Regions from separate parts of the Homo sapiens genome. Here regions 1, 3 and 4 are each linked to region 2. The links come from fine-mapping of genetic effects on gene expression. A gene starts in region 2. Each other region holds a variant in brackets. All regions are shown on one strand. Distances are between the middles of the regions.

The links.
Region 1: its variant is fine-mapped to the expression of TMEM185A in whole blood (TOPMed, PIP above 0.99).
Region 3: its variant is fine-mapped to the expression of TMEM185A in whole blood (TOPMed, PIP 0.94).
Region 4: its variant is fine-mapped to the expression of TMEM185A in lung (TOPMed, PIP above 0.99). The same link has a PIP of 0.9 or more in uterus and whole blood.

What each region holds. Positions count from the first base shown.
Region 1 is chrX:149,707,932-149,710,617 of GRCh38, forward strand. It overlaps a transcript of MAGEA11 not described here. Among named protein-coding and RNA genes, the nearest start is that of MAGEA11, 2.8 kb to the right of the region's middle. The variant G/T (reference allele first, on the strand shown) is at 1,211.
Region 2 is chrX:149,630,482-149,633,167 of GRCh38, forward strand. TMEM185A (transmembrane protein 185A) reads right to left here and starts at 1,311. Exons shown (of 7, transcript NM_032508.4): 1 at 1,062-1,311. The coding sequence starts at 1,099. RefSeq lists silencers at 804-853, 864-1,273.
Region 3 is chrX:149,757,483-149,760,168 of GRCh38, forward strand. It overlaps the pseudogene LOC100420322. Among named protein-coding and RNA genes, the nearest start is that of HSFX1, 15 kb to the right of the region's middle. The variant G/C (reference allele first, on the strand shown) is at 1,650.
Region 4 is chrX:149,602,845-149,605,530 of GRCh38, forward strand. It overlaps TMEM185A (transmembrane protein 185A), which reads right to left. Exons shown (of 7, transcript NM_032508.4): 4 at 1,143-1,226. Among named protein-coding and RNA genes, the nearest start is that of HSFX2, 8.9 kb to the left of the region's middle. The variant C/G (reference allele first, on the strand shown) is at 1,113.

The sequences.
Region 1 (2,686 bases), 77 kb after region 2:
ATTTTAGAAAGGGTATTCACTTTTTAATGAGGTTATTTGTTTTTGTTTGTTCAATTGTTTAAGCACCTTATAGATTCTGAATATTAGACCTTTGTCAGATGCGTAGTTGGGGAATATTTTCTTCCATTCTGCAGGTTGTCTGCTTACTCTGTGGATAGTTTCTTTTGCTGAGCAGAAGCTTTTGAGTTTAATTAGGTTAACTTGTCAATTTTTGTTTTAGTTGCAATAGCTTTTGAGAACATAGTCATAAATTATTTCCCGAGGGTGATATCCAGAATGGTGTTTCCTAGGTTTTCTTCTAGGATTCTTGTAGTTTGAGGTCTTACATTTCAATCTTTAATCCATGTCGAATTAATTTTTGTATATGATGAAAGGTCAGGATCCAACTATTGGGTACTATGCTCACTACTTGAGTGACGGGATCAATAATATCACAAATCTCAGCATCTCACAATATACCCATGTAACAAAGTTGCACACGTACCCCCTGAATCTAAAATGAAAGTGAAATTACAAAAATAAATAATAAAGACACAAATTCTATGAAGAAAAAGAAAGGTTATTCATAGAAGGCCTCACAGAGAAGATATTTGGAGAGAGACCCAAGGGTGTCTGGAAAGCAGTATTAGCTAGCAGTATTATAGGAGCATGTGTCTAGAAGAGAACAAAGGCGTGCAGTACCTCAGGACCCTGGAACAGAGAGTAGGAGGTAGGGGTCTAGGGAGGCTGGTCTATTGAAGCCAGACCCTTTTCTCTGAGCCATAGGCTGTCTCAGAGCCAGGTCAGCTGCACTGTACCATGAACTGGCTTATTGGATCCAGTATTCTATCCAAGGTTACTGAGTTGGTTTACATTATTCCAGCATTTGAGACGTGGGGTAGGTAGAAGTATAGTTGGAAACAGATTAGTAATGGATTGAAGATTTTTGATGCTGAATATCAAGTATATTGGGTATATTATACTATACTATTTTACATGTCTGACACTTTAATAAAGTTATTTCATCATAATATCATGCCATTAAATTTGAAATCCTAAGTGAAATGAACTATATTTTATAAAAAAAAAAAAATGGCCCGGCGCAGTGGCTCACGCCTGCAATCCCAGCACTTTGGAAGGCCGAGACAGGTGGATCACGAGGTCAGGAGTTCGAGACCCGTCTGGACAATATGGTGAAACCCCGTCTCTACTAAAAATACAAAAATTAGCC[G/T]GGTGTGGTAGCGCACACCTGAAATCCTAGCTACTCAGGAGGCTGAGGCAGGAGAATTGCTTGAACCTGGGAGGAGGAGGTTGCAGTGAGCTGAGATTGTGCCATTGCACTCCAGCCTGGGCGACTGAGCGAGACTCTGTCTCGAAAAAAAAAAAAAAAGATCAAATTGGTCCATAAAGAAACAGAAAACTTTAATCAAACATTACAAACTAAAACTGTATTCTCAGTTCAAGCCACCCACAAATGATCCAGGAAAAGAAAGTTTCAGAGGCCAGTTTTACCAAATAATTAGAACTCATTGCCATCCTAAGCAAACTCTTAAAAACCATACAAAAAGATGGGCAACTGTGGAACTCATTTTCTGAGACTAGTGTTCTTTGTTTCAAATACCAGAAGAGGACCTCACCATGAAAAGAACACTTAAACCAAAGTTACTCACATAGCAACAAATATCCTAAATAAATTAATAGCCAATTCATTAGGGCAGTGTACTAAATGGAAAAACGGGATATATCCAAAGAATGAAAATACAATTTGACATTAAAATATACCTTCAGTGTGATTCCCTATATTAACAAGATTATAGAGGCAAAACATATGATCATATTAATGGATACAGAAAAATATTTTGAAAAAATTAGTAATCATCCATGATAAAAATAACTAGAAAATTAAGAGTAGAAGGAAATTTTGTTTCATCAAATTGATAGCAAATATACTTAATTGTAAAATGTTGGACGCATTCATGTCAGGCACAGGTCATAAATGTATGCTATCATTGCTATTTTTCAAAGTTGTATTGGAATACAAAGCCACAGATATGGATACCAAAATAAATAAGAGGTATGTGTATTGGAAAGAAAGAGTGATATTTGGTAGGGTAATGCAACAGTCTATCTAGAAAATTCAAAAAAATGCACACTTGAAATAGTCAAATGAATAAGAGACGTGTGAAAAATAGCGAACAGAAGATCAATAAAGCAAAATCAAAAGATTTGCAAAACAGACAATAACTATTAAGAACAGGTCATAGAAAATACCCCATTCACAATAGCAACAATATCCAAAAATTACCTAACAAGAAGACTAACAAAAGCATGTATGATTTTTACTGAGGCAACTATACAAGTACTGATATATCCAGTTCAAAGAGCACCCAAATAAACAAGGCAGTATATGATATCATTGATAGGGAACAGAATATTGCAAAGATGGCAATTCTATTTTTTCAAAAATTGACAGACGTAATTCCTTAACCAGCCAAGATGACTGTCAAGCTCAGGCATCTGTTGGTTTTTGATTGTTTGGTTTGGTTTTGTTTTTTTGAGACAGGACCTCACTCTATTTCCAAGGCTGGAGTGCAGTGGTGTGAACACAGCTCACTGCAGCACTGACATCCTGGGCTCCAGTGATCCTCCCACCTTAGCCTCCCTACCAGCTGGGACTGCAGTCACACGCCACCACACCCAGCTAATT
Region 2 (2,686 bases):
CACACAAATATTTACTGAGCACGTCTTCCCAACTGGCAAATAAGGGAAACGGATACTCCTTTCGGAGAGTAGTGCATTTAAGAGATCAGTTAGGCCAACTCCTCATTTTACAGAAGGGCCAAAGAAGGGCAGAGAATCACCCAGTTACATATGGCCTCGTCTCCAATCCAAGTCTTTGGGCTCAGTTTAGTTCCACAAACATTTTATATGTGCCTACTATGTGCCAGATACGGTGGGTGGGAGGCGCTGGGGACACTGAGATGAGCAGGAGATGGTCTCAGCTTCAGGGAGCTCACAGCCTGGGGTAAAGAACAGTTACAAAACAGTCGGGCAAGTGCAAGGACAGGCGCTTGAGTGCTTAGCCAGTGTTTTCTCCACACTGTCCACTGGGTGTTCCCCATCTGGAAAAGAAGGACAGCAATATCTACTTCCTGCAAATAAACTTGTAGTGAAGACTGATGAGAAAATGAGTATGGAAAATGATCAGGCTCACCCAGAAATGCATTATATAAGGTATTGCCATACCCCGACACTGACTCCAAGGATTCAACAGTGTTTCAGGTATCCGTTCAACAAAGAAGCAAACAAGAGAGGGATGGGCATAAACCCAAGGAAAACCCCAAGGACTGCGAGGAACTGGAGGAAACAGCTGGGGTGGGGGTAGGGGTGTTGGGTCGAGTGAGACGGCCCTGACGCGGAGAATGGAGGGCCCGCAGCGGCGCAGAAGAGGATGGAACCGAGACGAAGAAGTTGGGACACCAATGAGGGACAGCAAGCAGAAAAGAATGGGGTTCCCTTGGGGCAGGACGGGGCTCGCGGCCGGGCCCTTCCGGCCGTGGCCGGGCAGGGGCTGAAAGCACCGGGCACGGGAGGAGGAAGCGGGCGGGCGCCGAGGCCGACTGTTTTGCCTGGGGACCGCTTGCACCCGCAGGGAGGCTCGGGCAGGCGCCCGGGTCCTCGGGCTGCAGCATCTCGCCCGCCGTGCCTCCCCGGAGCCGAACACCAGCCCGCGCCCGAGCCCGCAGCGCGGACTCCCGGGGGCGCCAACGACGCCGCCTCACCTCGGGTTGAAGTCCTGGAAGAGGCCCCTCAGGTTCATGGCGGAGAACTTCACCGCGGCGTCCTCCTCCTCCTCCCCCGCACCCCGTGCTGCACAGCCTGCGCCTTACAGCGGGTTCATGGCGCCAGCGCCAGCCGCGTCCACGCTGCTGCTCCCGCTACTGCTGCCGTCCCCGCTGCCGTCGCCGTCGCCGTCGCCGCCGCCGCCGCCGCCGCCGCCGCCGCCGCCGCCGCCGCCGCCCGGAGAAACCTGAGCCACCGCCCCCTGCCCCTCCTTCCGGGCTTCCGTACGAGGGCCGCGCATGCGTCCGGAGCCCCGCCCAGAGCGCTCCTCGCTGGGAGGTCCCCATCCTTGTGTCCGCACGCGACCGGCGGAGGAGATGGCAGGGGGATGGAGGCTGGGAGTGAGCAGGGCCCCGAGGAAGGGGATGCTGACGGGCTGAAGGCCTGCAGGGAGGGAGCGCGCCGCCCGGGAGTCTGGCGGGCAGATCTTGGCAGACACCTGTCACCTTGGCCCGCGCTACCTTCTGGAGATTTTCCCCAGTGACGACTGAGCCCTGGGAGTAGTGACAATGAGTGAGACGTTGCATTTTTGGCGATGTCATCCCAGGCTTCACCTGTCACATCTGTCAACGACTCCAAAGTTTGGGTCCCAACTTCCCTTCCAATTCCCAAGCCAGCGTGTCCAGATATGCTGGCTATTCCCTACTCAAGTTACCTAGCACCAAAGTCACTTCCCGTGCCAACCGCCTTCCCCTCCTGGGTTCCCTTTTTCCCTTAGCAGCAGGCCTATTCGTACGCAGGGGGGTATTCAAGCAGGAGACGTGGAAATCATCCTCATTTTTCTAACCCAGTTCAGAGCCTCCTTGGATCCTGTCTAAACTTTGTGGTCACTTCACACCTGACCTCTGCCTCCACTCCAGGCTGCCCTACTTACAAGTACCAGGTTCATCTTCCTTGGGCAAGTCAACATCTTTGAGTCTCAGTTTTTCTCCTCCGCAGAATGGAAATGATAAAAACCTCTTTTCTAAGCGTGTTAGGAAGATTCAGTGAGATCGTGTGCATAACACACTGCCTGGTACATGCTAGGTGTACAAAGAATGCTGTTGCTATCTGGTACTCTTTCAGGTGTCAACCTCCTCAAGGATTTTGTTTGCTTTTGGAATCCAAGAGCAGGACAAGCTCATAGCAGGTGACCTAGTTTACCATCTTCACTTTGGGCAGATTTAAGTTTTCATGAGCACAACAATGCCTTAAACATTAGTCTACTATCATTATGGATAATAGTCATCCTTTGTTGCAATAGCAGAGTTTCACAAATGACAATTTTATACTGTTTAGCCCCAAGGGCAGCTTGAGAGAATCACAATTGCGATAGTCATACTTAGTCTTGATGTATCACCTTTCTTCTGAGAACGTAAAAACATATCATAAGTGGTAATTAAGCTTCCCAACACCCACTGGGAAATGGATATTATTATATGAGCTGATTTTAAGGTTGAGTAATCCAAATCAAGTTTTCATCTGCTGAAGCACCAGGACCCTGTCCCAGACTTTTTCACCCATCTTCCTTTCCCATCCTCTGGGTAAAGTCCAATGTGTAGCCCAGAGGAGGTTCTCAATGAAC
Region 3 (2,686 bases), 130 kb after region 2:
AGCCCCTCAGGGGGCAGGTTTGGGGCACCTGGAAACCCTCAAGACCTATCCACGGATGGGCACAGGTATGCTCCCATCTGCTCTGCCCTGTGATGTTCAGAATTGTCCCAGTCCTGTGTGATGTGTGTCCATACAGGAGGCTGCTGTGGAGGATGCTGGACCCTGAAATGCCTGTAGGAGAGGATGTGGGGTGCATGGAACGTCCTAGCTGCTGCAGCCCTGCAGTCCTTAGGAAACACAGGGTGAGCATTCTCCATATCCCTTTGCTCTGTCCAATAAGGGACATGTGGTGTTGCTGTTTCCACCAATGTCCCCTGTGGGGTCCAAGGGCCCACCCTGAGACCAGCAAGATGCAAGTTCTTGAGTACATAGCCAACGCCAATGGGAGGGATCCCACTTCTTACCCATCCCTCTGCGGACCTGAGTCTCCATCCCTCAGATTCCCAACGCCGAATGAGGAGGCACCTCAGTCTAAGATGGGGGCGGGGTGGGCCCCCTGTCCTGGGGTGCTGGGTCCCCTCAGGCCTCTCTCATCTCCCAGGAACTCATAGCATGCAGGATCACTGCCAGGCACTTGCCGGTACACCAGGTACTTTTCCTGCACCCAATCTTGGGTGAGGAGCTTCTTGGGCTCCCCAAAGAGGAAGTGCTCCCTTCCAGCATACACCCCCATAATGCTGAGGACTTCCCACATAACCTCCATGGGACGCAGTTCCCCTCCATGAAGATCACACCCAGGACTATTATCAGGAGGCCAGACTTGGGCATGCTCTGCTCATCACCCAGTATGCCATCATAAGAGAGGCCGAGGGAAACAGAGGAAGCTGGGATTTGTGAGATCCCTTTTTCTTGGCATGTGAGAGGGTACCTTCTTACCTTCAGTCTTCACCAATATTCCTCTCCTTGACTACTGGTGAGAGGTGACAGCATGCTGGCAGCCCTCACAGCCCTTGCTCACTCTCGGCGCCTCCTCTGCCTGGGCTCCCACTTTGGCAGCACTTGAGGAGCCCTTCAGCCCACTATTGCACTGTGGGAGCCCCTTCCTGGGCTGGCGGAGGCTCCCTCAGCTTGCGGGGAGGTGTGGAGGGAGAGGCGCAGGCGGGAACCGGGGCTGCGCTCGGTGCTTGCGGGCCAGCACGACTTCCGGGTGGGTGTGGGCTGGGCAGGCCCGCACTCAGAGCGGCCGGCTGGCCCCCCCTGCCCGGGGCAGTGAGGGGCTTAGCACCTGGGCCAGCAGCTGCTGTGCTCAATTTCTTGCCTGGCCTTAGCTGCCTTCCCGCGGGGCAGGGCTCGGGACCAGCAGCCCACCATGCCTGAGCCTCCCCCTCGCTCCGTGGGCTCCTGTGCTGCCCGAGCCTCCTGGACGAGCGCCACTCCCTGCTCCACGGCACCCAGTCCCATCGACCACCCAAGGGCTGAGGAATGCCGGCGCACGGCGCGGGACTGGCAGGCAGCTCCACCTGTGGCCCTGGTGCCCGATCCACTGGGTGAAGCCAGCTGGGCTCCTGAGTCTGGTGGGGACTTGGAGAACCTTTATGTCTAGCTAAGGGATTGTAAATACACCAATCGGCACTCTGTATCTAGCTCAAGGTTTGTAAACACACCAATCAGCACCCTGTGTCTAGCTCAGGGTTTGTGAATGCACCAAT[G/C]GACACTCTGTATCTAGCTGCTCTGGTGGGGACTTGGAGAACTTTTATGTCTAGCTCAGGGATTGTAAATATACCAATTGGCACTCTGTATCTAGCTCAAGGTTTGTAAACACACCAATCAGCACCCTGTGTCTAGCTCAGGTTTTGTGAATGCACCAGTTGACACTCTGTATCTAGCTACTCTGGTGGGGACTTGGAGAACCTTTGTGTCCACACTCTGTATCTAGCTAATCTAGTGGGGAGGTGGAGAACCTTTGTGTCTAGCTCAGGGATTGCAAAGGCACCAATCAGCACCCTGTCAAAACAGACCACTGGGCTCTCTGTAAAATGGACCAATTAGCAGGATGTGGGTGGGGCCAGATAAGAGAATAAAAGCAGGCTGCTCCAGCCAGCAGTGGCAACCCACTCAGGTCCCCTTTCGCACTGTGGAAGCTTTGTTCTTTTGCTCTTTGTAATAAATCTTGCTGCTGCTCATCCTTTGGGTCCACACTGCCTTTATGAGCTGTAACACTCACCGCGAACTCACCGCGAAGGTCTGCAGCTTCACTCCTAAAGCCAGCGAGACCACAAACCCACCAGGAGGAACGAACAACTCCAGACGCGCCACCTTAAGAGCTGTAACACTCACCGCGAAGGTCCGCAGCTTCACTCCTGAGCCGGCGAGACCACGAACCCCACCAGAAGGAAGAAACTCCGAACATCAGAAGGAACAAACTCTGGACACGCCGCCCTTAAGAACTGTAACACTCACCGTGAGGGTCCACGGCTTCATTCTTGAAGTGAGTGAGACCAAGAACCCACCAATTCCGGACCCACTGGCAGATCCTGGACTCCACCCTGTGCTGAGCAGGTGTCTATCCCTCTGCTGACCTGACAACCTGCCTCAGACCAAGGGCCCTACCTCTCTGAGATGTGGGAGGCACAAAGTGAAGGGGCACTACACGGACAGCCCTGCATGGCATGCCAAAGGCTGACAGATGGAGCAGATTTCAGGGTGCCTGCTCTCTCTGGGTGTCCTCCAGGTATTCAGATTTACT
Region 4 (2,686 bases), 28 kb before region 2:
GTTTTATCAAAGACTTTGGGCAGAAGTGATTATTCCCATCTTTAAATATGGAGTATACTTAGGTTCCCTTCATTTCTTCTCTGCTCCCAATTCTTTACTATACTTTTCACTTTTTAAGGGTAGCTATATTTAATACATAAAATATATTGTATGCAAAATTATACATCAAACAACAGAGAAAATAAAACCGAACAAAAACACTAGCATGACCTTACCTCCCAGTGGCAATGGAACTCTTCTGCCTTTAGTCTCCATCTTTTTTCCATGCATTTAATAGTGGAATCTATACTGTGTTCTCTAATTTCTACCTTGCCACTTATCTTTCTATCTCTGCATCCATCTACCCATTTATTCACAGTTAATTTCAACCAAATGCCCAGTAACTGAAGTCACAGTTTAGAAGCATGACATAGATGCCACCACCAGCAAGAGTGTAAATGGGTATGGCTTTTTTTTTTTTTCTTTTGAGACAGGGTCTTGCTACATTGCACAGGTTGGTCTCGAACTCCTGAGCTCAAGTGATCAGCTCACCTCGGCCTCCCAAAGTGCTGGGACTGTAAGTGTAAGCCACTGCGCCTGGCCAGGTATGGCTTTTGGAAAAGCAAGTTGGCAGTGCAGTATACGTATATAGGAATCTCAAATAGTTCCCAACCTCTAGCTCAGTAACACTATTTCTGGACTATTTCCTAAGAAAACAACCAAAAAACAAAAGGCAAAAATTTTAATGCATAAACATATATACTGCAGTATGATTTAAAATCATTCAACACTGGCAACAATGGAAATACCATATTTTAGAAATAAGAGGATGGTCTGATACATGCACTTGAAGAATATTTTGTATCAATTAAACTTTAGAAGTCATGTTTATAAAGACCTTTTATTAACATGATAAAATGTTTATGATACAACATTAAAACAAAAAAATCAGGATACAAAATGGTGCACACAGTTATATCCAAACTGTTTGTATAAAACACAGACATAAAAACACTAACCATGTTATCTCCCCATGGTGGGATTATGGGTGACTATTAGGCTATTACTTCTGCTTGTCCGTCTTTTCCAAGCTTTGTACAGTGAATATGAATTACTTTTATAATAAAAAAGAA[C/G]TTTATTTAAGGATTTTAAAAGTTACATACAAGCCAGGGCCAGTGGATGATCTTGTCCAGTCTTAAGGCAATGAATATAAACTGGAGAATGTTGACAGAACACAGGATTTCTAACTAAAAATGAAGAGAAGAATCAGTTAAACAAAGTATAATTTGCATTTAATACTGCAGTAATTTGGTTAACACACTAAAAGACAATACACATTATAATACAGTGTAACTTGTATAATATTATATTGCACTGGAAACTCCTGATTTTCGGTACCAGAGGGGCACAGCAGTATTATGGCAAGGGGAAATGGGGCTCAGCCTGCTGCCTTGCCCCTCTGCTGCCTTGCCCTTTCTGGCCTGAGGCCTGAGCACAGATGAGAACCTTGTTTCCAGGTTCACTGGGAACACAGGCTAGCTGCAATAGACCACTAAACTTCCTTCATGTCCCTACCAACAATACTGTCTACTCGAAACCATCCTTGTGCATCCTTCTTCTCATACCTCGGTTTTGCCCTTGGACCCCACCCCTTCCTTTCAGGCTCCTTGAGGACCTTGTCACATCAAGCCATCAACTGTAGATTCCGTACTGTATCTTTAACCCCACCTATTCCATTGATCCCTCCTAGCAGCACAGAAATGACTCCTTCTCATTAAAAACAAAAGCCCCGAAACCAGATAAACCCACCCCATCCTTTGATCCAAGACCCCTCTTAGCCTCAGGTTTCTCTCTGCGAGACAGTAATGAATATGCAAGCCCCTACTATCTCATCTACCATTCCCAGCTTCCTTGTGATCTGGCCTCCACCCCCATGACCACCAGAAGACAGCTTTCATCAAAGTCACCGATAACCGGGAGGCAGCAAAAACACTTCAACTGGCATCCTACTGATACTGTGGATGACTCTTTCCTTTTTGCTCCCCTCCTCCTGGCCATCTAGATCCCACCATACAGTCTTGGAGCCCTCTGGAGTGTTCTGGTAATTCCTTCTGTCTCCTTTTCCCCCTCCTTAAATGGTGATGCTCCGCAGAGCCACAAACTCAGTCTTCTCTCCCGACTAGGAAGACAGACACACAAACACACATATTTTCACTCACCCGCTGCACCCTGGACTGGGGGAGAAGAAATTTCAACCAGACCCTTGGTCTGCATTATTACCTCCTTCATGGTTAGTTCTCACATCTGTCTCCAACTTAGCCTTCCTGCTGCATAGCAGACCCAGCTGTGCATAGGCCACTCGGCTCTCCTAAAGGCACCTCAAATGAAGCCAGTCCCAAATAGAGATCATTATCGCCTGCACTTAGAACCTTGTATCTCCTCTTTCTATAGCCTCCCATGTCACTTTCTATGGCCTCCCATGTCACTATGGCCTCCCATGTCACTTTCTATGGCCTCCCATGTCACTTTCTATGGCCTCCCATGTCACTTTCTATAGCCTCCCATGTCACTTTCTATAGCCTCCCATGTCACTTTCTATGGCCTCCCATGTCACTATGGCCTCCCATGTCACTTTCTATGGCCTCCCTTGTCACTTTCTATGGCCTCCCATGTCACTTTCTATGGCCTCCCATGTCACTTTCTATGG